Homo sapiens: one gene and its partners. The protein of the gene in region 1 interacts with the protein of each later gene in a biochemical or structural test. Each region holds a gene or a part of one and is shown on either strand. Other genes may lie near its edges.

The links.
Region 2: the proteins of AGMAT (region 1) and PDLIM1 interact in a test that uses a peptide from one of them, tested with the Homo sapiens proteins (one large-scale study listed by IntAct).
Region 3: the proteins of AGMAT (region 1) and FRMPD1 interact in a test that uses a peptide from one of them, tested with the Homo sapiens proteins (one large-scale study listed by IntAct).
Region 4: the proteins of AGMAT (region 1) and APBA2 interact in a test that uses a peptide from one of them, tested with the Homo sapiens proteins (one large-scale study listed by IntAct).
Region 5: the proteins of AGMAT (region 1) and SHANK1 interact in a test that uses a peptide from one of them, tested with the Homo sapiens proteins (one large-scale study listed by IntAct).
Region 6: the proteins of AGMAT (region 1) and SNTG1 interact in a test that uses a peptide from one of them, tested with the Homo sapiens proteins (one large-scale study listed by IntAct).
Region 7: the proteins of AGMAT (region 1) and MAST2 interact in a test that uses a peptide from one of them, tested with the Homo sapiens proteins (one large-scale study listed by IntAct).

The regions. Positions count from the first base shown.
Region 1 is NC_000001.11:15,571,199-15,575,051, reverse strand, and holds the end of AGMAT (guanidino acid hydrolase, mitochondrial precursor), read left to right. Parts: intron 1-210; coding exon 211-295; intron 296-1,327; coding exon 1,328-1,401; 3' UTR 1,402-3,353; downstream 3,354-3,853. UniProt on the Homo sapiens protein: Hydrolyzes linear guanidino acids to form urea and the corresponding amines. Displays specificity for substrates having a negatively charged head group and short chains including taurocyamine, guanidino propanoic and butanoic acids.
Region 2 is NC_000010.11:95,284,504-95,288,003, reverse strand, and holds part of PDLIM1 (PDZ and LIM domain protein 1), read left to right. Parts: intron 1-3,500. UniProt on the Homo sapiens protein: Cytoskeletal protein that may act as an adapter that brings other proteins (like kinases) to the cytoskeleton. Involved in assembly, disassembly and directioning of stress fibers in fibroblasts.
Region 3 is NC_000009.12:37,649,631-37,653,753, forward strand, and holds the start of FRMPD1 (FERM and PDZ domain-containing protein 1), read left to right. Parts: upstream 1-1,323; 5' UTR 1,324-1,464; intron 1,465-4,123. UniProt on the Homo sapiens protein: Stabilizes membrane-bound GPSM1, and thereby promotes its interaction with GNAI1.
Region 4 is NC_000015.10:29,049,974-29,053,473, reverse strand, and holds part of APBA2 (amyloid-beta A4 precursor protein-binding family A member 2), read right to left. Parts: intron 1-3,500. UniProt on the Homo sapiens protein: Putative function in synaptic vesicle exocytosis by binding to STXBP1, an essential component of the synaptic vesicle exocytotic machinery. May modulate processing of the amyloid-beta precursor protein (APP) and hence formation of APP-beta.
Region 5 is NC_000019.10:50,660,803-50,664,302, reverse strand, and holds part of SHANK1 (SH3 and multiple ankyrin repeat domains protein 1), read left to right. Parts: intron 1-1,620; coding exon 1,621-2,338; 3' UTR 2,339-3,500. UniProt on the Homo sapiens protein: Seems to be an adapter protein in the postsynaptic density (PSD) of excitatory synapses that interconnects receptors of the postsynaptic membrane including NMDA-type and metabotropic glutamate receptors via complexes with GKAP/PSD-95 and Homer, respectively, and the actin-based cytoskeleton.
Region 6 is NC_000008.11:50,792,907-50,796,406, forward strand, and holds part of SNTG1 (gamma-1-syntrophin), read left to right. Parts: 3' UTR 1-3,500. UniProt on the Homo sapiens protein: Adapter protein that binds to and probably organizes the subcellular localization of a variety of proteins. May link various receptors to the actin cytoskeleton and the dystrophin glycoprotein complex.
Region 7 is NC_000001.11:45,810,112-45,813,611, forward strand, and holds part of MAST2 (microtubule-associated serine/threonine-protein kinase 2), read left to right. Parts: intron 1-2,337; exon of another isoform or gene 2,338-2,460; coding exon of another isoform or gene 2,461-2,478; intron 2,479-2,836; exon of another isoform or gene 2,837-2,889; coding exon of another isoform or gene 2,890-2,916; intron 2,917-3,500. UniProt on the Homo sapiens protein: Appears to link the dystrophin/utrophin network with microtubule filaments via the syntrophins. Phosphorylation of DMD or UTRN may modulate their affinities for associated proteins. Functions in a multi-protein complex in spermatid maturation.

The DNA of each region.
Region 1 (3,853 bases):
ACCACACCATGCAGCCCTGAGGAGCAGGGACTGTGTACGCATTATCTGTTTCTCTGGGAGGCCTGCCAGTGTGCCTGGCAGTCAACAAATGTTTATGGAGGGAAAGCCAATTCCAAGTCAAAGGGTGGCGTGGGCTGGGAAAAGCTCTACTGGGTGCTTTTCACTGTAAATGATTACCACTGTGGACAACTCAGTCTTGATCTTGAATAGGCTCTGGAGATCATCAGGGGTTGTCAAGGCCTGAACGTGATGGGCTGTGATCTTGTCGAAGTTTCACCACCGTATGATCTTTCTGGTGAGTAAGCAAAGAGACTGAGATCCATGGGCAGCCGGTAGCTTAAATTACACGAAGCTAGTTAATAAGTAGAAAATGGGGCCAGGCATGGTGGCCCAAGCCTGTAATCCCAGCACTTTGGGAGGCCAAGGTGGGCAGCTCACCTGAGGTCAGGAGTTCAAGACCAATTTGGCCAACATGGCGAAACCCCATCTCTCTAAAGATATAAAAATTAGCCAGGTGTGGTGGCACACACCTGTAATCCCAGGTACTCAGGAGGCTAAGGCAGGAGAATCGCTTAGAACCTAGGAGGCGGAGGTTGCAGTGAGCTGAGATTGCGCCACTGCACTCCAGCCTGGGTGACAGAGCGAGACTCCATCTCAAAAAAAAAAAAAAAAAGATGAGTCCCTTATATGACTTGGGGAAGCAGCTGAGCATGTCCAATGGTGAAGAAAACACACCTATTACTGCACACCTTACAAACATGAGCTCATTAACCCTAACAAAACCCCCAGGAGGTAGTTAAGTATCATTAGCTTGCCCACCAATCAGCAGAAGAGAAAGAAACCAGCCTGTAGTCTAGTGACAGGGTGGCCCAATCCCCGTCTCCTTTGATGTTTCATTGCAAAGTGAATTCTAAAGCATAAATAATATATGTTAATATTTATCAAATAGGAACTTAGCTGGTTAAGATCTTCAAAGCAGACGCCATCCCAATAATTTTAATGTAGACAAACTTATGGAATTAGGCCTATCGACCTCAGAGGATAGATAATACAGTACACATCATTATTATAGGTTCTCCTTTGGGAAAAATCTGTTCTCAGAGTAAACAAAGAACTTTCTGAATTTTAAAATATGATTCCCAAATGATGCTTGATGGAGGCAGAGAGCCTGGGCAAGCGTGTTCACAGCTGGCGGGCACCCTAGAGGGGTGCACAAGACAGGGCTCTGGAAAAGGAGGCACAAGGGGAAGAGAAAGCTGAGGAGTCCCAAGGCTTGGCTCAGCGGGTCGTCTGCAGGGTATTCATGTGAGGTTTTACTTTTTCTTAGGGAACACAGCCCTGCTGGCGGCTAACCTGCTGTTTGAGATGCTATGTGCTCTCCCCAAAGTGACAACCGTCTGAGTCTTGTGCTCTTCAAGACAAAACAGATTGCGTCGCTGACAAGTTCTCAAGAAGAACTTATGAGTAAGCAGTCTGAGAACTAAAGAGTTTATGCCAAGAAAACTTTCTGCTGAAAGTGTCATTGCTGGCTGTGAAGTCGGGATAATCAGTAGAATTCTCACCCAAACAGCAACATTTCTAAGGAACTTGGATTAATTGGGGGAAAAAAAAAGGAGTACTTGTACTGCTTTGATTTTTTTTCCTTTGATGAAAGATGGAGGATAAAGGGGAAGTGAGGAGAATTTCTTTCAAGATTATCTAAACATTAGAAACATGACATTTAAAAAAACTATGAAATAATACTGTATAAGCATTCCATATTTCTATATCTTCCTTTTAAACATTTTTTTTTTTGAGATAGAGTTTTGCTTGTCACCCAGGCTGGAGTGCAATGGCATGATCTCGGTTCATTGCAACCTCCGCCTCCCGAGTTCAATCGATTCTCCTGCCTCAGCCTCCTGAGTACCTGGGATTACAGGTGCCTGCCACCACGCCTGGCTAATTTTTGTATTTTTAGTAGAGACAGGGTTTCACCACATTGGCCAGGCTGGTCTTGAACTCCTGACCTAAGGTGATCCGCCCGCCTCAGCCTCCTTAAAGTGCTGGGATTACAGGCATGAGCCACCGCACCCAGCCGCTTTTTAAAATTTTGATGATCTGCTTCCTAGAGTATTGAGTATCTTCCTTTAAACTACAGCTCCTCCTCGGACGCTGCAGTGAGCTGAGATCGCACCACTGCACTCCAGCCTGGGTGCCAGAGCAAGACTCCATCTCAAAAAAAAAAAAAAAAAATACAGCTTCTCCTATGAGGTGCTTAGGGCTGCATCTTGGTTTTAGGACCACTGTGAACGTAAGTAAAAAGTATAAAGTAACACGGAGAGCCTAATGAAGAAACTTCTTGCTCAGAGGCCTAGAAGGGTACACAAAATGTCTTCTAAACTAGAAAACCTAAGGCTGGACACGGTGGCTCATGCCTGTAATCCCAGCACTTTGGGGGGCGGAGGTGGGCAGATCACTTGAGGTCAGGAGTTCGAGACCAGCCTGGCCAACATGGTGAAAACCCATCTCTACTGAAAATACAGAAGTTAGCTGGGCGTGGTGGCGCGTGCCTATAGTCCCAGCTACTCAGGAAGCTGAGGCAGGGGCATTGCTTGAACCCGGGAGGTGGAGGTTGCAGTGAGCTGAGGTCATGCCACTACACTCCAGCCTGGGTGACAGAGTGAGACTCCGTCTCCAAAAAAAAAAAAAAAAAAAAAAAAGCAGGCCGGACCCAGTGGCTCACGCCTGTAATCCCAGGCCTAGGCGGGAGGATCACCTGAGGTCAGGAGTTCAAGACCAGCCTGGCCAACATGGTGAAACCCCGTCTCTACTAAAAAACAAAACAAAACAAAACAAAACAAAAAAACCCCAGAAAACAAAACAAAACTGGAAAATGTCAGCTGGGCTTTTTTTTTTTTTTTTTTTTCTGAGATGGAGTCTCGCTCTGTCCCCCAGGCTGGAGTGCAGTGGCCCGATCTTAGCTCACTGCAATCTCCGCCTCCTGGGTTCAAGCAATTCTGCTGCCTCAGCCTCCTGAGTAGCTAGAATTACAGTCATGCGTCACCACGCCCGGCTAATTTTTGTATTTTTAGTAGAGACGGGGTTTCACCATGTTGGCCAGGCTGGCAGCTGGGCTCTTAATGTTACTTATTGTAACTCACTTCCTGTAAGACTCAATCTACTCTTCAAGTTGATGTACCCTCTATGACTGTAATTCCTGAAATCTGCAGTTATGCTGTGGTGATCTTAAGCGTGTCTTGAGTTCCATGCAAATTCAATTCTGTTGATAATGTGTCCATAATCAAATCATCATCTTGCAATGCAAGGGCTACCCCATAATTATCAGACATTAAAATAGTTTATTTCTTTTTCCATTCTGTAATCTTAAAATAACATCAGCTTCAGTGCCTGTTCACAATACAAAAAAAGTCAAAAAACAAAAACAACACCCAAAACATAAAAAAGAAACAATTTGCCAAATAAGTTATTTGTTCCTAAGAGTATCAAAAGTGCAAAATATTCACCTTCTTTTCAGATCTCTCCCAAGCATAATTATCCTCCTTGACAAACTGAACAGACAGATTCAGCAGCTGCCACACTGCACTTGTTTTTAGGGGACAATGTCAGACAGGTGGATGTGAACTACAGTTCCTCTGTAAAGATGTTTGGCATCAGCTTTTAAAGAATTCTAGTTAACAAAACAGGTCTGAGTATGTGCTTCCAATCTCTATTCCCAAACAAAGGAAATCACTAAAAAAACAGATCACACTTCTTTTTATAACAGAAAAATATTTATGTAATGATGGCAGCTGCAAATTGATTGGGATGTTAATAAATAAAAAGGAACAAGTATCAACAAGCTGCAAATGAGGAA
Region 2 (3,500 bases), on another chromosome or scaffold:
TTACCACCTAAATTAGGTATCCCAAATACCATAGCTTAATTTTGCCTGTTTCTGAACAGACTCATACAGAACACGTGTGTGTGTGTGTGAACAGCTTCTTTAGCTCCTTAATGTTTTCATCTAGTATCGTTATCAACTTAAAATTTCAACCCAGGTTTCCAACTTTAAGTGGACATAGGCTAGCTTCTTTTACCCACATTCTCGTTTAGTGCTCTTGCCTTGTGTTCCCTGATGATCCAGCCACACATTTGCCACTGTTCTCTGATATTTTTTTCTGTCAGTTCCTGCTTCAAATCAACACTTGCCCATTTCCTTGAGGTATTTTTTTAATTAAAAAAATTTTCCATGTTAATTTCTCCTTCCCTCTAGTTACTTTCAAGGGAAGCCTTCAGAGAAATACCCAGGCCAACATTGCAACTCAGTTTATGTTGACTGTTTTTCTCTCCCAGCAACTGATAAAAGACAGGAAAGGGTGAGGCCAAGATCAAGGGATGCCCTTAGTTGGAGGAGTTGCTCATTTGTCTCTGGAGTCCTGGGGAACCCTTTGCTAAGAGCTGAGCGGTTCTGTGGCAAATGCTTATGCTTTTTCTCAAGTATCCCAAGGGATGCTTAATAATGGTTACTGTGGCCAGAGGGTCATTTCTGATTTTTAAGAGTGGTATTTCCGGATTCAGATAGATTTTACATCATGTCGTAAAGATTGAAAGAGAAGGGTTTGTCTGTCAGATTATGAAAAGCAGGAAATGTCCAAAAAGGGTCATTATGTTTTAATGGCCATTGTGCTGCATGCCCTTGGTCTGTGAAATTGATACCTGGGAAATATTAGCGACTTCAGCTGCTCACAGCTGACTTAAGGAGAGAGGGGGAAGAGGACAAACCAAAGAGAATGACATGTAAGTGAATGCCTGAGCCCATACTACATTATCACCCTCTGACCAGATAGTCTCCCCTCCCTAAACTCCTGATGCCAACCTTGCTGGTTTGTTTGAGGAGGCAAGAGGGAAGAACAGTGGCTTTAGGGTATTGCAGCCAGGTAGATGACTGAGAGGAGAGTGTCATCTAAGCGTCTGGGTCATATTCTCCTAGGCTGACCAGGACTGGGAAAAGCACCAAGGAATTGCTGTGTACTGGGATCAGGATAGGACTGGCACATTCTTAGGCCATGCCTTAACTCTTGCTCCACAGAGGAGAGGAAAGCTAGCATTCTTTGCCTTTTGCAAACAGAAAAGCTCAGGTGCTCACAGGTTAGGTAATTTGGTTGAATTTACATAATTTCTCACTGGCTGACTTACTACTCAACTTCCTTGTAAAGGATAGGATAGAGACTGGAGCAAAAGTGGTTGTGTCAGAAAACTAACTTTTAAAGGATTATTTCGCTTCCAGTAGGTCTCAGAGGAAAGCCTGGGGGAAGCTTCCAGGACTTTAATTGAGGGCCTGGTACAATGTCCAGGGCAGGGACTCAAGCTGAGCTCTAGTCCGGAGCACCTTGGTGGGTGATCCTGGGAAAATCATATGTCTTCTCCTGGGTTCAGTTCCCTGTAAAGATAAAATAAAATAATATTCCCTGTAAAGATAAAATAAAATAATAAGCAAGCAAACCCAGAGGTTTTCATACCCTTTGAATATGAGAGCTACTTTTTTTTTTTTGAGACAGGGTGTCGCTCTGTTGCCCAGGCTAGAGTTCAGTGGCATGATCTCGGCTCACTGCAACCTCCACCCCCTGGGTTCAAGCGATTCTTGTGCCTCAGCCTCCTGAGTAGCTGGGATCACAGGCATGAGCCACCACATGTGGCTAATTTTTGTATTTTTAGTAGAGATGGGGTTTCGCCATGTTGGCCAGGCTTGTCTCAAACTCCTGGCCTCAAGTGACCTGCCCACCTTAGCCTCCCAAAGTGCTGGGATTACAGGCATGAGCCAAGAGCCCACTTTTTTATTGTTAGAGTGTCCTAGTCTCTCATGGCATTAGTTGTACCTTCAATCATAAGTTGATTTAGAAAACACTGTGATTTCAGGAATGTTTCAGATGTATTTGTCTTCTGTTAATCACAGCAGCATCCATTTACATTTGAAAGATTTGTGTGAGAAATATTTATTTGATCTGCTTGCAGTAATAACCATAGTTAAAACATATATAGGACTTTTAATATGCCAGGCACCATTCTAAGACCATAATATATTCAGTGATCTTCACACGTATTTTGTGAGGTAGGATTAAGATCCCCATTTTACAGATGAGGGAACTGAGGCTTGGAGACCTTAAGTACACTGCCTGCATCATATAGCAGTGAGTGGTAGAGCTGGAGTTTGGCTGGGGAGTCCGGCTTCCAAGCCTGTAGTCTTAATCTCTATGTCATAGTAATATATTAATAACAGCTAACATTTTTTGAGTGCCTGCTCTGTGCTAAGCATGCACTTACATTATCTTCTTCTGTATTCCCCACAACCCATGACAGAGGGACACAGAACACAAAGTCAGACAATTGCAGAGCTGGGAAGTGAAGCCAGGCAGACTCACTTCCAGGCCAGCTTTAACCACTATATTCTGCCTCCTAATAAGCCATAACTGTCAATATTTCATTGCTAACAGTGTTAACCCAGCACACAGCTCTGAAAAGTGCTAAGGGTGGTGCAGGCTTCAACATGAGGGATAAGACACTCCTGGGCTCCACACCCTGGAGCCTCTCATTCTCCTGAGGTTGGTTGGGGTGGCTCTCCAGTTGCCTTGTGGCCTCAGCTCAGAGCACCTCAGAAAGCAGCACCTCCCTTCCCTGTCCCTCCTGAAAAACTGAAAGTCATGGCCCCACCTGGGAGAATTTACAGTCCAGTTATGAGGTTCCATGCCCACTTGGACAGTGAAGAACAAGAGCAGAGGAGTGGAAGGACTGGCTAGAGAAAGACCTGCTTGTGGGGGATAGGAGGGCATTTGGGAATGGTTCTTGTGGTAGATGAAGATGACCAGGCAGTGAACAGTTCCACCTTGCGGTAGCCAAGCTAAGTCCAAAACCGAATATACCCATGAAACCTAAGACAAAAAAGGTAATTCCTGTATGGCTGTTAGCACCCTGTGTGATTATTGATACTCTTGTTAGCCACATCCTGGGCAAATTGGGCTGCTCATCCGTGGCTGAGTTCTGTGGTGCACTTTCCCATGTGTAATACACTGTCTCCTTGGTAAATGCCATAAATACTAAAAATGATTTTGTGAAGAACACAGCGGTCTTGTAGGAGGCCAGATTCCTTACTGAACACTCAGGGACTAATTTTTATAGACACGACCATTCGTATCAAGTAAGACAATAAGAACATAGATAGGACCTAGTTTAGATAAAGATATTGAAAATGCATACAGAGGCTGGGCTTGGTGGCTTATGTCTGTAATCCCAGCACTTTGGGAGGCCAAGGTGGGTGAATCACCTGAGGTCAGGAGTTTGAGGCCAGCCTGGCCAACATGGTGAAACCCTGTCTCTACTAAAAATTCAAAAATTAGCCAGGCGTAGTGG
Region 3 (4,123 bases), on another chromosome or scaffold:
TGCTGCTAGTCTTCCCCCACCGCCCTTGGATGAAGGATGCACTTGTTAACATCTGCCTGTGCACCATCCCCAGAATGATCTAACATCCCAGTCTGATGGTGCCTCAACCCTACTCAGAACTCCTCCCATGAACCTGCCAGTGCACTGGGAACACGGTGCAAACTCCTTGACCAGGAATTGGCCCCTGCTGACTCCCCTGCTTTATGTCTCAACTCCTGCCACTCCCTCTGTGGGATCTCTCTCATCTTGGGGTCTTTGTTCCTGTGGTCTCAACCTGAAAGGCTCTCTCCACACTCCTCCCTTTCACTGGCCAATTCCACTGGCCTTTCAGGTTTCCATTTAGAGCATGCCCTCTCCAGGAGGCCTTCACTCAGTCAGTGCAGGCCTGAGTGGTGCCCTTGGCCCCGTGGGATTGGGTTATTGTTACAGGAACTGGACTGTATTTTAATAGTCCTAGACTGTACATTCCATGAGGACAGGGACTGCTTTATTAAAGGTGTATTGTATCTCCAGTGTCTAATGCAGGATATGGACCTCGTAGGTGTTCAGTAGAGTTCAGCACGGAAAATAGTGCACAGACACATGCATTTGGGTATCATGCTCAGAGAGGCGGTAGGACCAGAACCAGGGGAGTGGGTGAGACGGCTCAGGGGGTCAGAAAAGGGCTGAGTGCAGAGTCCCAGGGCGCTCCGGCATTTTAGAGCTTCTGGTTTGAGGAACCCTCAAGGAGACCGAGGGAGTGGCTGGAGAGGGCCGAGGAAAGCTAGGAGAACACAGTTTCCCAGCGCGGAAGGAGTTTACAGAGACAGGGGAGGTGGTCCACAGTGCCTACCGTGGGCCCACGCTCTCCCTCTCCCTTCAGCCGAACACCTGCGGGGCGTGGGGGTCAGGGGGCGAGTCCCCCAGGGCTCCCCGTAGCTGGGGCTCTTCCTGGGGAAAAGGAGGCGTGAGAAGGGGGTCGTTTTGGGAACTCTTCTGGGTTCCAGTTCTGGCCCAACCACCGCTGGTCCGGGTGACCTTGGGGAGTCCCTTTCCTCTCCCAGCCTCAGTCTCCCCCCTGGGTACTCAGCGGACGCTGCGTGCCCCGGCGGTGAGCTGAGGCAGGCGGCGGAGGCAGGGCCCGGGTGGGAGCGGGACCGCCCACTGCGGCGGGCCGGGACCTCGGAGCCAGCGGAGGCGGCGCGCGGGGCTCCTCCCCCGGGGCGGGGGTCGCGGCGCCGGCAGCTGGCGGCCGCGCAGCTGCAGCCTCAGCACCTGCCGCCGCCAGACGGCGCGGGCGCGGCCCGGCCCGGCCAACCCCTCCGGCTGCAGCCTCGGCGCGGGAGGCGGAGCCCGAGCCGAGCCCGAGCAGCGCTGCTTCCCGAGCCTTGGCCGCGACCGTGCCCGCCGCTGGGCGGGGCCGCCCTTCTCCGAGAGCGTCAGCCCGCTAGGTCCTTGTCCGCGCGGGCGGCACCTCCTCTGCAGGTAAGGGAGGGGTCCTGGCACCGCAAAGTTTTGGGGAGACGGCCTGTCCCCACACCCCGGGCCTGCGCCTCGGCTTCCTCCGCGCCGCCCTCCGCCTGCACCACCAGTCCCGGGTGACCCGCGCCCGCCTCCGGTCCTCGTGTCCCCAAGCCCGGCTCGGGGGCGCGTCCGTGGGCTAGCTCAGGACCTGCCATCGTGAACTGTTTGCACAGTAGCGATGTGTGCTTAAGTTTCCGAGATCTGCATGGTGTAGTGAGTGGAAACAGCGGCAACGCGGGAGGGGGAGAGACCTGGGTTCAGGTGCGGCCGCGGCCAGCGCCAACTTTCTGAGTGACCTCAGACCAACCCTCTCTGTCCGTCCTCGATGGCCACACCTGAACCAGAAGGGGTTCGCCAGGGACGATCAGCTGCAGTGCCAATGCCTGTGTTGTCATTTTTTGAGTAGAGGGGCATCCCTGAGTGTCTCAGCTCCAGAACTCATTGCGTGTGGAGAGGAATGAGCCACAGAAGTCAGTCTCCAGGGTCGCGTCGCTAACTTGCAGCAGCTTTGACTGAGCTTTAGTGGGGGCGTTGAGTCAGCCTCGGGAAGCAGGGGATGCCCCTAGGGTTAGGAGTCAGGACTCTGGCTTCTGGTGGCTCCTCTGCCATACACCCACTGTCTGTGTGACCTTGGGCAAGTGCCCCCTGCTTTTGCCACCTATAAAATAGGGTGGAAGTCGTGTTCACTAGTTGTTCGCTGTCTCTTTCAGCTGTAAACTCTGGAGAAGCGGAACCTCCGGATCTCTGCATTTAGTCAGTTTGGGTGGAGGCAATATTTCACCAAGAATCCATCTAGCACTTGCAAATGAACGTTTAGAAAATAAAGGAGGCATTTGCAGTTTGCTTTGGAAGTCCCAAAATAGACATGGGGAGGATTGGTGAACGCTCAGTTCGCCTTCTTCAGTGCTTTGGACCGTCATGAAATATTCAACGACATAATGATTTGTTTTCAAAGTGGCTTATAGATCAGGAAGCGTTTCTGTTTGTGAGTCGGTTATTTTTGTAAAAACCTCAGAATGGTTGTTTGGGAAAAAAAAATAATGCACTGTTCTAGGGGTCCTGACCTAGAGGCCAGCATCTACTTGTTTCTAGTCTAAGATGATGGTTGAGATGATTTCCAATCAAGACAATTTCGGGCATCCTTTGGTCGGTGTTGAGTATGGGTACGGTTAAGGAGCCAAGTTCATCTTTTCCAGGACTGGTGCATTCTGGCACAGTCACAGCAAAACAAGCACGAGGTAGTTAACTGTGATATGCTAGAAAGTGAAATTTATTCTTTTGCCCAATATCTTGTTCCCCTTGTGCTGCAATTAGTGGCTCCCCAGTGTGTGGGTGAAACGCATTACCACGAAAGGATTCTCACAGAAGTGATTTTATGATTTTATTTCCTTCCTCGACATCCTGGTTTTAAGTTTCTAGCATTATGAAATCAGAGAGCTGGTGAGGGTGTGCTTGGTGACCAGAGCAGAGTTGTGGTACCTAAGTTTGTCTTTCCTGAATGAGACCCCATCCTTGAAGCTAATTTGTCCAGAGCCTTTTATCTCTCTGACGCATTCAAATGCCACCAGTCTTTTCCCTCTTCATTCTCTATTGGTTCATCAAGCACTTTCTCACTACTCATTCGAGAGGACACAAACATGAAAATTACCAACAGGCCCTACCCTCAAGGAGCTTAGGTTCTGTTGGGGAATAGAGAGGCTTGTGCCACAGGATCTTCATTGTGGGCTTTATCGCCTGGGATTCCTGTGAACACTAAGGAGGGTGAATTCCAAGTGGAGATATTGGAGAAGGCTTTACAATGGAAGGTGGAGGAAGAAGAGGATTTCAACAGGTGGTGAGGAATAGAAAGGCTATGTGTAGGTCAAGGAGCTGGTACGAGCAAGGAACTGGTGAGAGCTGGGAGAGCATGAGACAGATGAGAGCAGTGAGCCTGGTGGAAGCACAGAGAAGGCAGAGCACTTCAGAGACAGGGCAGCGGGAAGAGGCTCTGGAGGCTCTGAACCTGGGCTGGAATCCTCGCTGGCTGTGGAGTATTGGGCCTCCGAGCGTCACTTTTTTAATTCGTAAAACGGGAATAATAATAATTCCAAACTCACAAGATTAAATGAGATCATGTATAACAGTGTCTAATAGGATGTTTGCATGTAATAGGTGTTGGATAAAAGTCAATTCTTTTTATCAGAGGGTTCATGGGCAAGCTGAATAAGTGTTTGAAGGCACCATTGGAGTAAATAGTGCTTTTGGTTTAAGCATGTGCATTGATTTAGAACCTCACCAGCAGCAGAGAGTTCTTGTGACAATGTGATGTGTCCTCGAGGTGCCTCCTGATTCAAGGGGCAGGGGCTTTTTGTTATTTGGAAGGTGTTCAGATCAGATACTAACATCAACAACAGGCAATGCCCTGTAAATACTGTTAGGTGGTGGGAGGTCACAGAAGGCTAATCAGAAGGCTCAATCCCTGCCTCACACAAGCTTATCACTATGTACTCAAGGACCCAGATTGGTGGGGGAGGGGGGCAGATTTGACAGACACAGCTCTAAATATATCAGCTTTGTCCATATAGCTGGGAGCGGGGTACTGGCTCCCTTCTGTCTTAGATTTGCAGTGGTCAAAGAATAG
Region 4 (3,500 bases), on another chromosome or scaffold:
CAGCTTTCATTAAGAAGACATAATGAGGACCAATGAGGAGGGACAATAACTCTTCCCAATCTAAATCCATGACCCCTCAAAGACTATCTTGGGTACCTTCCCCTTCAGGCTTATCCCATCCTCTCCCTCCTCTTCCCCCTCAAACTGAACAATGTTCACCGAGGAACTGGATGCGCAGGGACCATCCAGGCTGAGCAATGTGCAGAAAAGCTCTACACAAGTCCCCAGCGTGGCAGGCTGGAGGGCTCAGCAGAGGGGACAGCACTGCTCGGCCATGGGGAGAAGAGGACAAAGGGTGCAGCCGCAGCCTGCAGGTATCGTGGGGTGACAGGGCAGCTGCAGAGACCTGGCAGGCCAAACTGGGAGAGGGCCTGGACCCAGTGCCCAGGACTCTGCACTTTATCCCCCAAACCACACGGCTATGGCCTTAATATGTCCCCCAAAGTTCATGCGTTGGAGACTTAATCCCTAATGCAACAGTGTTGAGAGGTGGGACCTTTGAAAGGTGATTAGGTCATGAGGGCTGTGCTCTCATGAATGGATTAATGTCTTTATCTTGGGAGGAAGTTCTTTATTGTGAGAGTGGGTTTGTTATAAAAGTGAGTTTGGCTCTCTCTTGCTCTCTTTCTCATTCTCCCTCACCTTCTCACCTCTGCCTTGGGATGACATAGCAAGAAGGCCCTTACCAGATGCTGGCACCTTGACCTTGGACTTCCCAGCCTCCAGAACTGTGAGAAACAAATCTCCATTCTTTATAATCAACCAGTCTTAGGTATTCTGTTATAGCAACAGAAAACAGACTAAGACATGTGCACAGTCACTGAGCCATTTTCAACATTTTTTCTTTTAGCCCTGTCTCTCTGGGCCTGGCGTGGGGACAGAGGCTAGAGGCTAGAGGCAGGGAGACCAGTGAAAAGGCTATTCTCTCTTCTGGGGGAAAGCAAGGGGCTAGCATCAGGAAAGTGGCACAGAGGACGTCCAAAAGTTTGCTTAACGTTCTACTTCTTTTTTTTTTTTTTGAGATGGAGTCTCGCTCTGTCGCCCAGGATGGAGTGCAGTGGCACCATCTCAGCTCACTGCAAGTTCCACCTCCTGGGTTCACACCATTCTCCTGCCTCAGCCTCCCGAGTAGCTGGGACTACAGGTGTCCCCCACCATGCCGAGCTAATTTTTCGTATTTTTAGTAGAGACGGGGTTTCACCGTGTTAGCTAGGATGGTCACGATCTCCTGACCTCGTGATCCGCCCACCTCGGCCTCTAAAAGTGCTGGGATTACAGGGGTGAGCCGCCACGCCCAGCAACGTTCTACTTCTTCAGCTAATTGCTTCCCCAAATGTTTGTCATATTCTTTAAACTGTACTCTTACATTACACATGCCTTTTTGCTTGCATGATAGTTCAATTATTTAAAAAAACATATTCCAGTAGTCCAGTTAAGAGCTTGCACACTTGAAAATGCTTAAAATGCTAAATTTTTTATGTCTATTTTACTGCAATTTTTAAAAAGAAAAAAAAGGAGAGCTTAAACTAAAACAGTAGAGAGGACAGTGGAGAAGTGGCTCAGTGAGGACCTTAGGTGGCAGAAGCAAAGGGATCTGGGCTCAGATGGGAGCAGGAAGTGAAGATGAAAGAGGAGCTATCAGTGACCCTCAGCAGTCACTGCCCGGGCTCTCATCTTGCCTTCCTGTACCTCCTCTTCCCCTCTTGTCTCTTTAGTTTAGGCCACAAACTCAAGGCCTTCCATATTGTGTATCCCCCCAGAGCTCCAAACACAGCACCTTGTTTGTAGTGGTGCCCAAAACACATCTTGTTATGAGACTGAGTGTACCAGATGGTCACGGTTACAGCAGTATGAATATTCCCAAAAGAACGAAGAAGGAGATAATTATTTCATCCAGTCCAGACACTCAGAGTGTGGGCACAATTACTGATGGAGCCACATGCTTCCAACGTGTGAATTCACTCCAAGGACACTTGACATCTAAAGAAGCAATGTTTACTCCGCCACCTGCACAGGCTTGTCCATGGCCGTGTTTCAGGAGCATCACTGGTATGCGGAGCAATTCACAGCACTCCCCCTAGAGTGGCCCACAGACAGCAAAGATGTCCCACACCAGGAAAATTGTCACTGAGATGGACCCTGCAGGGCCCGTCACCCCATTCGCAAACCCTGAAACTGGCAGGACAATTCGAAAGAGCTGTTCCCTAGAAGAGAACAAGGGGCCAGCACTCACTAAGACATCTGCAACCCAGATGTGTCAGAGGACACATCAAGAACACTGAGCTGCCTCAAAGACCACATATAACTTGTCACCAGATTTCTTATCTTCACAGAGGACAGCCAGCCACAAGAGAGAGGCTGCAGGAGTGATGTCAGGGACTTAGCAACCACAACTCTCAGACACAATCTCCAGTAACTACATTCCTCAAAACGGTCTCTCAGAAGCATGTGCTGAATGCAGCTGCTAACATGCAACCAGACGTCCATGTCTTGACGTCAGGACGGCAAAGGGCAGATGGTACATCACTGGCACATGAGCACACAGCTCCCATTCCTTGCATAGCGGTGCCATCTCTACAGCATCCCTGTTTCTCGCCAGGCTCTGACATCAAGCTGTGCACGTTGAAGGTATGCACATCCTTGTTAAGAGAACAAACTAAAGTACACAGTACTCTTGCTATCTTAACTTCAAAATCTCTGTCATTCGGGGGGATAAAATCTGTAATATGCACATATAAATATGTATACCAACACTAAATAAAATATTCTCTAGGCCAATATAGGACATAAGGACTAAAATACACATTACAGTAACATGGAACAGTCCAGATCCTATTAAAATGTTATTCAAGTTTTCAAAAATGAAAACACTGAGGACATTGTAGGAGAACTACAATAGAACCAGGAGTTTATTTTCCACTGGTGTTTCCTATTAGCTCTCCAAGCCTTCAGATGATTTCAGAAAAATTTATTCCAGATGTATAACACTACGACAACAATATAATTTGGACTATAATTACTCAATTCATAACTTACCACTGCTTCCTATACTTTTTGCATTTCTTTCTCTTGAACTATTTAGTGGGATTTCATTTTTATTTTGTAAAAATAATTGTTAGAGTCATTTTGTTTACTTAGGAGGTAACTCTTTTGTATCTATAAAATGGCTCTGATCTCACATAGAATGATACCTTTGCTAGGTATAAGATTATTGTATTGCATCCTTTTCACAATAATTTGCTAACACTGTTCCACTATCTTCTAGCTTACAGTCTCGCAGATGTGCATTTTAATACTATTCAGATTCTTTTTACCTTGGTACAAAAATCTATTCCTTCCGTCTGGAAGCTGATACAATTTCCTCTCCACTCTTAGAGTTCAGAAATTCCAGCAAACTATGTCTAGATAAGGGTCTTTTTTAATTTTATGAGGGTCTCATTAATTTTATGTGAGATTCATTTGGTGAGCCCTTTCCGAATCAAGTCCCACATCTTACTTTA
Region 5 (3,500 bases), on another chromosome or scaffold:
GCTTCAGATACACAGAGGGTTGGGAGCAGGTTTTAAATATCCTTGTCCATCTACAGAGTTCACTTGAATTCTGTTTGAAGGTCTGCTATCCAAATGTGTCTGACCTTCAAATGTGGGTTCAGGGAGTGTATATTTGGGGCAACTTAAATCTATGCTCCCAGGTTGAAAAAAAAAAAAAAAGAAAGAAAAGAAAAAGGAGGCTGGGCACAGTGGCCTGCCTCTGTAGTCCCAGCTACTCAGGAGGCTGAGGTGGGTGGATCACTTGAGCCTGGAAGGTTGAGGCTGCAGTGAGCTGATATGACACCAAGGCACTGCAGCCTGGGGAACAAAGTGAGACCCTGTCTTAAAAAAAAAAAAAAAAAGAGAGAGAGAGAGAGAAAGAAAAGAAAAAGGAAGTGTATATTATTAGAGCAACTTGAATCAATGCTCCTACGCTGTAAAAATAAACAAACAAATGTGGGTTTATTAGGCCTTTAAGAACTGAATGCAATTCCTTGACTATTCTTAAGTATTCTGGTTAGAGAAGAGGATTTTTTTTTTCTTTTCTTTTTTTTTTTTTCCACTGCTTGTAGCAGCAACAGGAAGGATGCTTAATTCAGTCAACAATTGCATTAATTATTGACTCATGACCTATGTGTGCAGAGTGCCCTTCTGGGTGATGGGATCCCCTGCTGGACAGGACAGGCAAAGACTGTGCAACTCCACAGGGCTCATAGTCTAGGGACATAGGAGTGGGGGCGGGGCAGTAAACAAAATAATTGCAACCATCCTACAAAAAAAGCTACCACAATGGGATGGGTGGAGAAGGTCTCTCATGTAACAGGCAAGGTGGGCAGAGTAATGAAAGTGGAGAGGGAGCAGCTGCCCAGGGCAAGAGTGAGCCAGGCAGGGGGAGCAGCCAGTTCAAAGGCCCTGAGGTGGGACAGTGCTGGAGGGGAGGGAACGAAAGGGATGAGGGGAACCTTTTTCTCCCCTTGTTTCTTCTCTCTTTCATCTCCCTCTCTTCATCTCTCTCTCTCTGTGTCCCCTGTCCCTTCCATCTCTCTCCCCTGGATGCTCACCCTCTTTTTGTCTCTCTCTCACTGTCTCCCCATCTTTCACTCTGCTACGACTGGCCATAACCTGAAAGGCAGTATAGAATAGTGGTGAAGAGCTCAGACTTTGGTGCCATATAACCGGGCTCTGCCACTTCCTGTGTGTCCTTAGGCAAGTTATTTAACCTCTCTGTGCTGATAATAATAGTAACCTGCATCAGGGCTGTCGTGGGGATTAAACTGAGATGCAATCATGTAAAGCACTTAGAACAATGCCTGGCACACGTGAGCATCAGTAAGCGGTGACGATTATTATTATTATCACTTAATGTCTCTTTTTCTTTCATCTCTCTTAACTGTCGCCCTCTCCCTGTCCTCTCATCTTTCTCTCCCTTCATTTCTTTCCTCGACGGCCGGCCGTCTTACCCCTTGCTCCCTCCATTTCTTCCCGTCTCTCCTCCGTCTCTCCCCCTACCCTTATGTCTCTCCTCCTCTCTCCCTATATCTTGACCTCTGCCTCTTTCTCACCCCTGCCCTTGCCCCCTAAATCCCTGTCCTCCCCCACTGCCCCCTTGTCACATTCCAGACTCTCCGACGACTCCCAGTCCTCACTCCTCTCCAAGCCTGTCAGCAGCCTGTTTCAGAACTGGCCCAAACCACCTCTGCCGCCACTCCCCACCGGAACAGGGGTCTCCCCTACAGCCGCTGCGGCCCCAGGGGCCACCTCACCCTCAGCCTCCTCCTCCTCCACGTCCACCCGCCACCTCCAGGGCGTGGAGTTCGAGATGCGGCCCCCTCTGCTCCGCCGGGCCCCCAGCCCCTCGCTGCTGCCCGCCTCGGAGCACAAGGTCAGCCCTGCGCCCAGGCCCTCGTCCCTGCCCATCCTGCCTTCCGGACCCCTCTACCCAGGCCTCTTTGACATCCGTGGCTCCCCAACTGGAGGGGCAGGAGGCTCGGCTGACCCCTTCGCCCCAGTCTTTGTGCCGCCACACCCGGGGATATCCGGGGGGCTCGGGGGAGCCTTGTCAGGGGCCTCGCGCTCCCTCTCACCGACCCGCCTGCTCTCGCTGCCCCCGGACAAGCCGTTTGGCGCTAAACCTCTGGGGTTCTGGACCAAGTTCGACGTGGCTGATTGGCTGGAGTGGCTGGGTTTGGCGGAGCACCGAGCCCAGTTCCTGGACCACGAGATCGATGGCTCCCACCTGCCCGCCTTGACCAAGGAGGACTACGTCGATCTAGGTGTGACCAGGGTGGGCCACCGCATGAACATCGACCGGGCTCTCAAATTCTTCCTGGAGAGGTGATGGCTGGCCTGGACGGACCAGCCCCGTCCACAGAACTCTTGAGCCTGCTGGCCTCTTGACCTCTGACCCCTGACTGTCATTCTCTCCCCGGGCCAGGGACTCTGTTCAAACTGCGCCCTGCCCTCATCTCCCAAGGCCAGAGGTCACCAGGTGGCCCAATCCAGGCCGGACATTTGCACCTCACTGAAGGGGGGCAGCTGACACAAGAGTGTGTGTGTGTGTGTGAAGCGGGGAGCGGAGGGGGGATAGGAGAAATTACAGAGGGGAATTGAGAAGGAGGGAAGGGCCTATTCTGGGGGGAGGGGATAGACAGAGCCATAGAGGGTCAGCCCTGAGCCCGATTGGATGGGGACTGTCCCCCAGGCCGCAGGGGAAGGGGGTGCCCTCGGATTCCACCACCTGCCACCCCTCTAACAACCCTTCCCACTCTCTCCAGGCCCCTCAGCTCTCCCCCCTTCCCCTCTCCCCAGCACACACAGCTGCCCCCCTCAGCCTCTTGCACGCTCCGTTGCACGCCTGCTCACCTCTCTCCCCTCCCGTCCCCGGGCTGCAATTTTGCACAAATTTGCCCTCTCGCTGTCTTGCACATTCTGCCTTTGCTTCTGGCTGGCGAGGCCCGCTCAAATACACTCTGCTCTCCTCGCACACGCTGCATTTCCTTTCTCACGCTCCATGCCTCCTTCTCTGCTTCTTGCTGCTTACACACTTTTCCCCTACCAGGGCCCTCCTTTACACACTCCATTTCACATCTCCTCCTCCCCGCTCGCTCTGGACCCTTGTTGCAGACACACTTGGGACACATTTTCCCTCCCCCTCACAGACTCCATGCACATCATTCATTCTCTGGAGTGCCCTGCTCTTTGCTCAGCCCTTGCACACTTGCTATCTTATGCACCCCTCCTGACACACTCTTACCTCCATTTTCTTACGTTGAAGCACTTTCCCTTCTTATTCTTAAAAACCCCAGATTCTTCCACTCCCCAACTCTCCCCTCTCACCATGACACTCCTAGCCCCCCACCCCCCGCCTTCCCTCTTGCCCCTTTTGCACCGTCACTTTTGGTCACGCCTTTTGCACACTTGCCTCCCAGAAACTGTTTCTCTCACACATGCTCATTCTCTTCTTCTTTGCCAGGCTCCCACTCCCTTGCCCCTTTCTGTTT
Region 6 (3,500 bases), on another chromosome or scaffold:
AACCATAACATCACCAAGTCGACAGTGGAGGCAAATCAAAATTTCGGCAGAAAAAGAAGGTCATGTGGAACCTCAAAAACACTTCTATTCTGGATGACATCTGTGAAATATACTACATGAACAGAACAGCTTGTTCTCACTCAGTTGCTTTGTACCAGTAAGTGTATTGCTTTCACCAAAAGTGGAGACAAAAGAATAAATTATTTGAAGAAGTATGTAAATAACATAAAAATAGTAAGCTACCTATGAATAAAAATACTTATTAAATGATTACTTCTGTATTTTAGATTATTTTGTATGACTAGTACATGTTGGGCAGAGTCATAGGAAAACAAATGCCCTATCTTGTATTATGAGGGACATAAAAGAGTTAAAAACCATAAATCAGCAAGGAGCATGCAAAAAAATCTCATCAAAGAAGGATGCACTTTAATTTGCTGATGTAAATTTGCCCTTGTGTTCTCATCCCATGATTTGACACTGGCATTCCAATTGTTTTTATCTTATTGTAAATATTCCGAAGAACTTCCAAAGGATAATTACATTGACCCATGATAGATACAATGTGAAATGGACTATTCTCCCTTGGATCACTGTTATTGAAATGTCTTATTAGCTGCCAAAGTCAATCAAATATGCCAACAGTGTATTAATTTAATTATGAGTGATGGAAAATTTCATGAACCTCTCATTTCTTCCTTGGTTTGAAAGAGATTTGTATTTTACCTAATAAGATTTATTATCAAATTAAAGTTTCATAAATTTTCAGTGAACCCAAAACCTTTTGTAGAGAAAATAATATAAACAAATATGGTGTGAGAAACAATTCTTTGTAATCCGAAGTCTACTAGTTAATCATGAACTAAAATGTCCCCCGAAAACAGTCCCAAAGCTATTATAGATGTTAATTAAATGACATTTTTTCATTTTAGTACTATTTTATGAGAAACAAAGGTGATATTTAAAGATAAAAGTTAAAATTCTTTAACCTCCCTTGTCATGGAAAGTGATTAAGTAATGCCAACTATGCAGGTTGTTTTAGGTATTTTGTCCTAAGAATGTAAATGTGAAAGGCTGGGAAATTTGAAAGCCTTAGAGGTGTGCAATTTACTCAGATTCCAGGTATTATTCAACTAGTTGTATAACATGGAACACAGTCTCTGTCCTTCAGTACAGCTTTTTTGAGATATTTTAAAAAGTCAGCTGTGTATGTAAAAAAAAAAAAAAATTTTTATTGATACACATGCTCCCAGGTAAACCAAGTATTATGTGTGTCCTTGTGGAGATAACCAAGTATCTAATAAATTGATTCAATTTTTTTTTTCAAATATGTTTTTAAAAATCACTCAAGAAGGAAACAAAGTGATTTCTATAAAGGACAGATTTACTAATTTAAAAAATTAATATCAAGTTGTTTTTATACTCATGATTCATTAATTTATTTTGCATCAGATTAATTTGTAAATACATCAAATTGAAAAGAAAAAGTGAGGGTTTATAATTGTCCCTGGGAAAATGTTAAACTGAATCTAACATACCTTACCCAAAGAACTGTGGCAAATTACAATAAACAGTTTCAGTGTAATGTATTTTGACCGTAAAACTAAGTACACATTTGTAATTAGGATAGAACTTTAGAATTATTGCACACTATATTGATCAAATACAACAGTCATTGTAAAATTGAAACCCACCAAAAGCAGCCTTCAGTAGTAGGCCACTTCTGAACTTATGGAGAAAAAGCAGTGGGATACATCGAACTTAGAATTTTCAGCTGTGGCAAGTGGTTCATTATGGAACTTCTGCTTCCAACCAGAGCTGAATCTCAGTGTGCCCCATATTGGGGTTACATGAATGTGTCCACAATCTGGAAGGCAATATGACATGGGCTAATTATCCATAAGCAAAAGAAAAACGTTTCAACAGTTTACCTACCTGTAATAGAATGATTTAAAAATTGTGAAATTTTGTAAACGTTCCATTTTAGAATTTAAAAAACCTATTAACCATTAGCTATCTTTTTAGTGTTATTATGAAAATTTAGCCTATGCTCATGTGTGTTACGAAGGAAAAGGTGCACAATGAGATATGTATAAATATATATCTCCTCAGAGAATACACACACACCTACATATGTATTTATATGCATACATGGGTGTATATATATATAAATATAATGAAATGCTGACCATTAATTATATTAGAAGAATGTTTTGTGTACATACATTTAATATACTTTAAATTACGTTGTAAAATGTAGCTTGATTAAAAACTTATGACAATACCATTATGAATATTTTTGATACTATTGATAAAAAACATAAGCCGTGATTTTTATTTAACATGATTAGTACAACAGCCAAAAAGTAACAAAATACTATTCTCGTTTTCATCAGTTTAACAATTAGTATTTAATGTTTTCTTTACAATGTGGTGATTAGTCATTGGCATTTGTTATAACTTGGACTACTTGAATGAGAAAGCTTTGAAATGAACAAAAACACTTAAAAATTTCTATCTCTCATATAATTTAGGTTTACATGTAAGAGATTTATTCATAAAATCCTAGTTTGTACATTAAGCACATTTTAACAGCAAAATGCTAATGTGTTAACCCCTCCAGTGCCTTGGTATGTGTGAGCGTGTATGTGTGTTTGGGTGTGTGTCTGTGTATGTGTGTGAGTGTGTAAGTGTTATCATTAAAGGGTTCATTACAGTGTACATAACACAAGCTTAATGGAGAATATTGTAGGTATTTAGGTCAGAGAATGAAGTTCAAAGTCATTTGAAAACTGCTAACTACTATAATAATGTCTTTTGCCTGATAAAGAATAACAATTCATCTAAGTCGAAGTATATTACAGAAAGGGCATTTATAATTTGTTAAAATGCAACAAGTATTTATTTAAAAAATAGTTTAATAGATAGTGTAAGTGTAATGTATATCTGAACACTTATCCAGCTTTTTTAAAATGGGAGGATAATCAGGTAATTATTTCTTGCCCATATTTCAGGCATGTACCAACTTATAATTTTGAAATCTTCGCTCATAAAGCTGTCATTCAGCAAGAAAAAGAAAGCAATTACTTGAAAATAAATGTCAAGTCCATATTAGCCATGCAAAGAGAGAAATTTTCCTTTGGGTGCATTAGTTTATAGATCAACATTTCCCTCATTTACAGTGCTGAAGCTTGATCATGAACTTTGTCTATGTTGAATGCTGGATTTAAGAAAAGCTTGATTTATTACTGAGAAAAATTAATAATCCTAACGATAATTTAGAATTACTGCTAGAAATCAGCAGTGTGGAGAAGCTTTAAAAGCACAAGGATGATCTTGTGCTTAACTTTTTAAGGTAAGTGTAGATGTTCGGATACTAATAACAAAGATTTTGCTACTATTAATATTGCTGTGCTCATAATTTCTCCTTATGAAATTGCTTTATTCATACTTCTAAAATTGTTCTTTATTGTTTATTCTTACTACCGAATACTTTAAAA
Region 7 (3,500 bases), about 30 Mb from region 1:
GTGCTCAGTCATTATTTATTGAATGAATGAATGGAGAATGATTCAAATATTTTGAATTTTGGTAATTTGAGTAATAATGGTTATATGATAGGAGTAGACAAAGGAAATAGAATATTTTTGAGGATGGCAGAAGATGAGTTCAACTTTAGTTCCTAAAATACCCTCAGTGTGACAGAAATTTTAAAAAATTATTTTAATGGAAATCAGAACCTCTTTCCTCTGCATTACAGGGTTAGTACATTGGGAAAAGCATAGGGCAGAAAGCACACAGAAGGGAAGCTGCGTAATATATATAGGGAACTATAATCGGTTTGTTATTGCCAGACCCAGAGCTTTACGTTGAAGGTGTAAATGCTAGGTTAGAGATTAAAGAAGCCTTGATTGTTGAGGGTCTTTAGTGTGATATAAAAGGATAATTGGCTGGGTGTGGTGGCTCACGCCTGTAATCCCAGCACTTTGGGAGACCAAGGTGGGTGGATCACCTAAGGTTAGGAGTTTGAGACCAGCCTGGCCAACATGATGAAACCCCATCTCTACTAAAAATACAAAAATAGCCAGGCGTCTTGGTGGGCGCCTGTAATCCCAGCTACTTGGGAGGCTGAGGCAGGAGAATTGCTTGAACCCGGGAGGTGGAGGTTGCGGTGAGCCAAGATCGCGCCACGGTACTCCATCCTGGGCGACAGAGCGAGACTCCATCTCAAAAAAAAAAAAAAAAAAAGGATAATAAGTAGGGGAGCAGTATATTCTTTTTTTTTTTTTTTGAGGCAGTCTTGCTCTGTGGCCCAGGCTGGAGTGCAGTGGCACGATCTCAGCTCACCGCAACTTCCACCTCCCAGGTTCAAGCTATTCTCCTGCCTCAGCCTCCCAAGTAGCTGGGATTACAGGCATTGGCCACCATGCCTGGCTAATTTTGTATTTTAGTAGAGACGGAGTTTTTCCATGTTGGTCAGGCTGGTCTCAAACTCCCGACCTCAAGTGATCCACCTGGCTCGGCCTCTCAAAGTGTTGGGATTACAGGCGTGGGCCACCGTGCCTAGCCGAGAGCAGTATATTTCTTTTTTTTTTTTTTTTTGAGACGAAGTCTCGCTCTTGTCTCCCAGGCTGGAGTGCGATGGCACGATCTCGGCTCACTGCAGCCTCCCCCTGTGGGGTTCAAGCAATTCTCCTGCCTCAGCCTCTCGAGTACCTGGGATGCCACCACGCCCAGCTAATTTTTGTATTTTTGTATTTTTTTTTTTTTTTTTTGAGACGGAGTCACGCTCTGTCGCCCAGACTCGAGTGCAGTGGCGCGATCTCGGCTCACTGCAAGCTCCGCCTCCCGGGTTCGCGCCATTCTCTTGCCTCAGCCTCTGGAGTAGCTGGGACTACAGGCGCCCACCACCACGCTCGGCTAATTTTTTTGTATTTTTAGTAGAGACGGGGTTTCACTATGTTAGTCAGGATGGTCTCGATCTCCTGACCTCGTGATCTGCCCTCCTTGGCCTCCCAAAGTGCTGGGATTATAGGCGTGAGCCACCGCACCCGGCTTTTTTTTTTTTTTGACACAGAGTCTCACTTTGTCACCCAGGCTGGAGTGCAGTGGCCTGATCTTGGCTCACTGCAAGCTCTGCCTCCCGGGTTCCCGCCGTTCTCCTGCCTCAGCCTCCCGAATAGCTGGGACTACAGGCGCCCGCCACCACGCCCAGCTAATTTTTTTGTATTTTTAGTAGAGACGGGGTTTCACTGTGTTAGCCAGGATGGTCTTGATCTCCTGACCTCGTGATCCGCCTGTCTCGGCCTCCCAAAGTGCTAGGATTACAGGCGTGAGCCACTGCGCCTGGCCTAATTTTTGTATTTTTAGTAAAGATGGGGTTTCACCATGTTGGCCAGGCTGGTCTGGACCTCCTGACCTCAGGTGATCTGCCCGCCTTGGCCTCCCAAAATGCTGGAATTACAGGTGTGAGCCACCGCGCGCGGCACAGGAGCAGTATATTCTTATTTGTGTTTTAGTTGGATTACTCTGGCAACTGTGTGGAGGATAGGATGCAGGACATGCTGTTTGAGACATGAGCATTTGAGAAATCTTCCGAGTTTTCAGTGCAAAAGTTTATTTGACCTCCTTTCCCTCTTATCCAGGGTATGGGTAAGGGCTAGCTCCTAAAAAGGTGTTAACTTTGAAATATTTAGTTTCATCAAAAGTACTGGGAGCAGAGAGTCTATGGTGGCTTGAAGCAGGTTGGCAAATGTTCCCTGATGAGGGTAGGACACATGTGATTACAGAGTTTTCCCATCATTGTTCTGGATGTCTCTTGGCCTAAAGATCAATCTGTAAGCCTTTTTTTTTTTTTTTTTTTTTAGACGGAGTCTCGCACTGTTGCCCGGGCTGGAGTACAGTGGTACCATCTTGGCTCACTGCAACCTCCGCCTCCCAGGTTCAAGTGATTCTCCTGCCTCAGCCTCCCAGTAGCTGGGATTACAGGCATGTGCCACCACGCCTGGGTAATTTTGTATTTTTAGTAGAGACTAGGTTTCTCCATGTTGGTCAGGCTGTCTCAAACTCTCGACCTCAGGTGATCCGTCCACCTCGGCCTCCCAAAGTGCTGGGATTACAAGCATCGGCCACTGTGCCTGGCCCTACTCCTATTTTTAATAGTCCGTGTAACATTTTCATTTGGATAGCTCAGAGACCTCTCAAACTTAACATGTCCAAAAATGAAGTCTTGATTTTCACTTTCTAGTCTGCTTCTTCCCCAGTCTGCCTCATGTCAATAGATGGCACTACTCATTTACCAGAACAAAACTGGAGGTTGTGTTTGATTTTTTTCTTAACCTTACCTGTATTCCACATTCAGCCCCTCAGGTCTGTTTGCTGCTACAGTTGTCCCTCAATATCTCTCGGGGATTGAGTACATGACCCCCTGCAGATACCAAACTCTGGTATGCTCAAGTTCTATCTATAAAATGGCATAGTATTTGCATGTAACCTATGTATATCCTCCCATGTACTTTAAATCATCTCCAGATTATTTATAATATATAATACAATGTAAATGCTATGTAAATAACTGTTACACTCTATTACTTAGGGAATAGTGACAAGAAAAAAATATCTATACATGTTCAGTATAGATGGAACTATTCATTTTCTTTTTCTCTGCATACAGTCATGTTCCGCATAATTATGTTTTAGTCAATGATGGATGACATACAAGATGGGGGTCCCATAAGATTATTATTATTATTATCATTTTTTTTTTGAGACCGAGTCTTGCTCTGTTGCTCAGGCTGGAGTGCAGTGGTGCGATCTCAGCTCACTGGAACCTCTGCCTCCTGGGTTCAAGCAATTCTCCTGCCTCAGCCTCCCAAGTAACTAGGATTACAGGCAGCCGCCACCACGCCTGGCCAATTTTTTTTTTTTTTTTTTTGAGACGAAGTTTTGCTCTTGTCCCCCAGTCTGGAGTGCAGTGGCACGATCTTGGCTCACTGCAACCTCTGCCTTCCGGATTCAAACAATTCTTCTG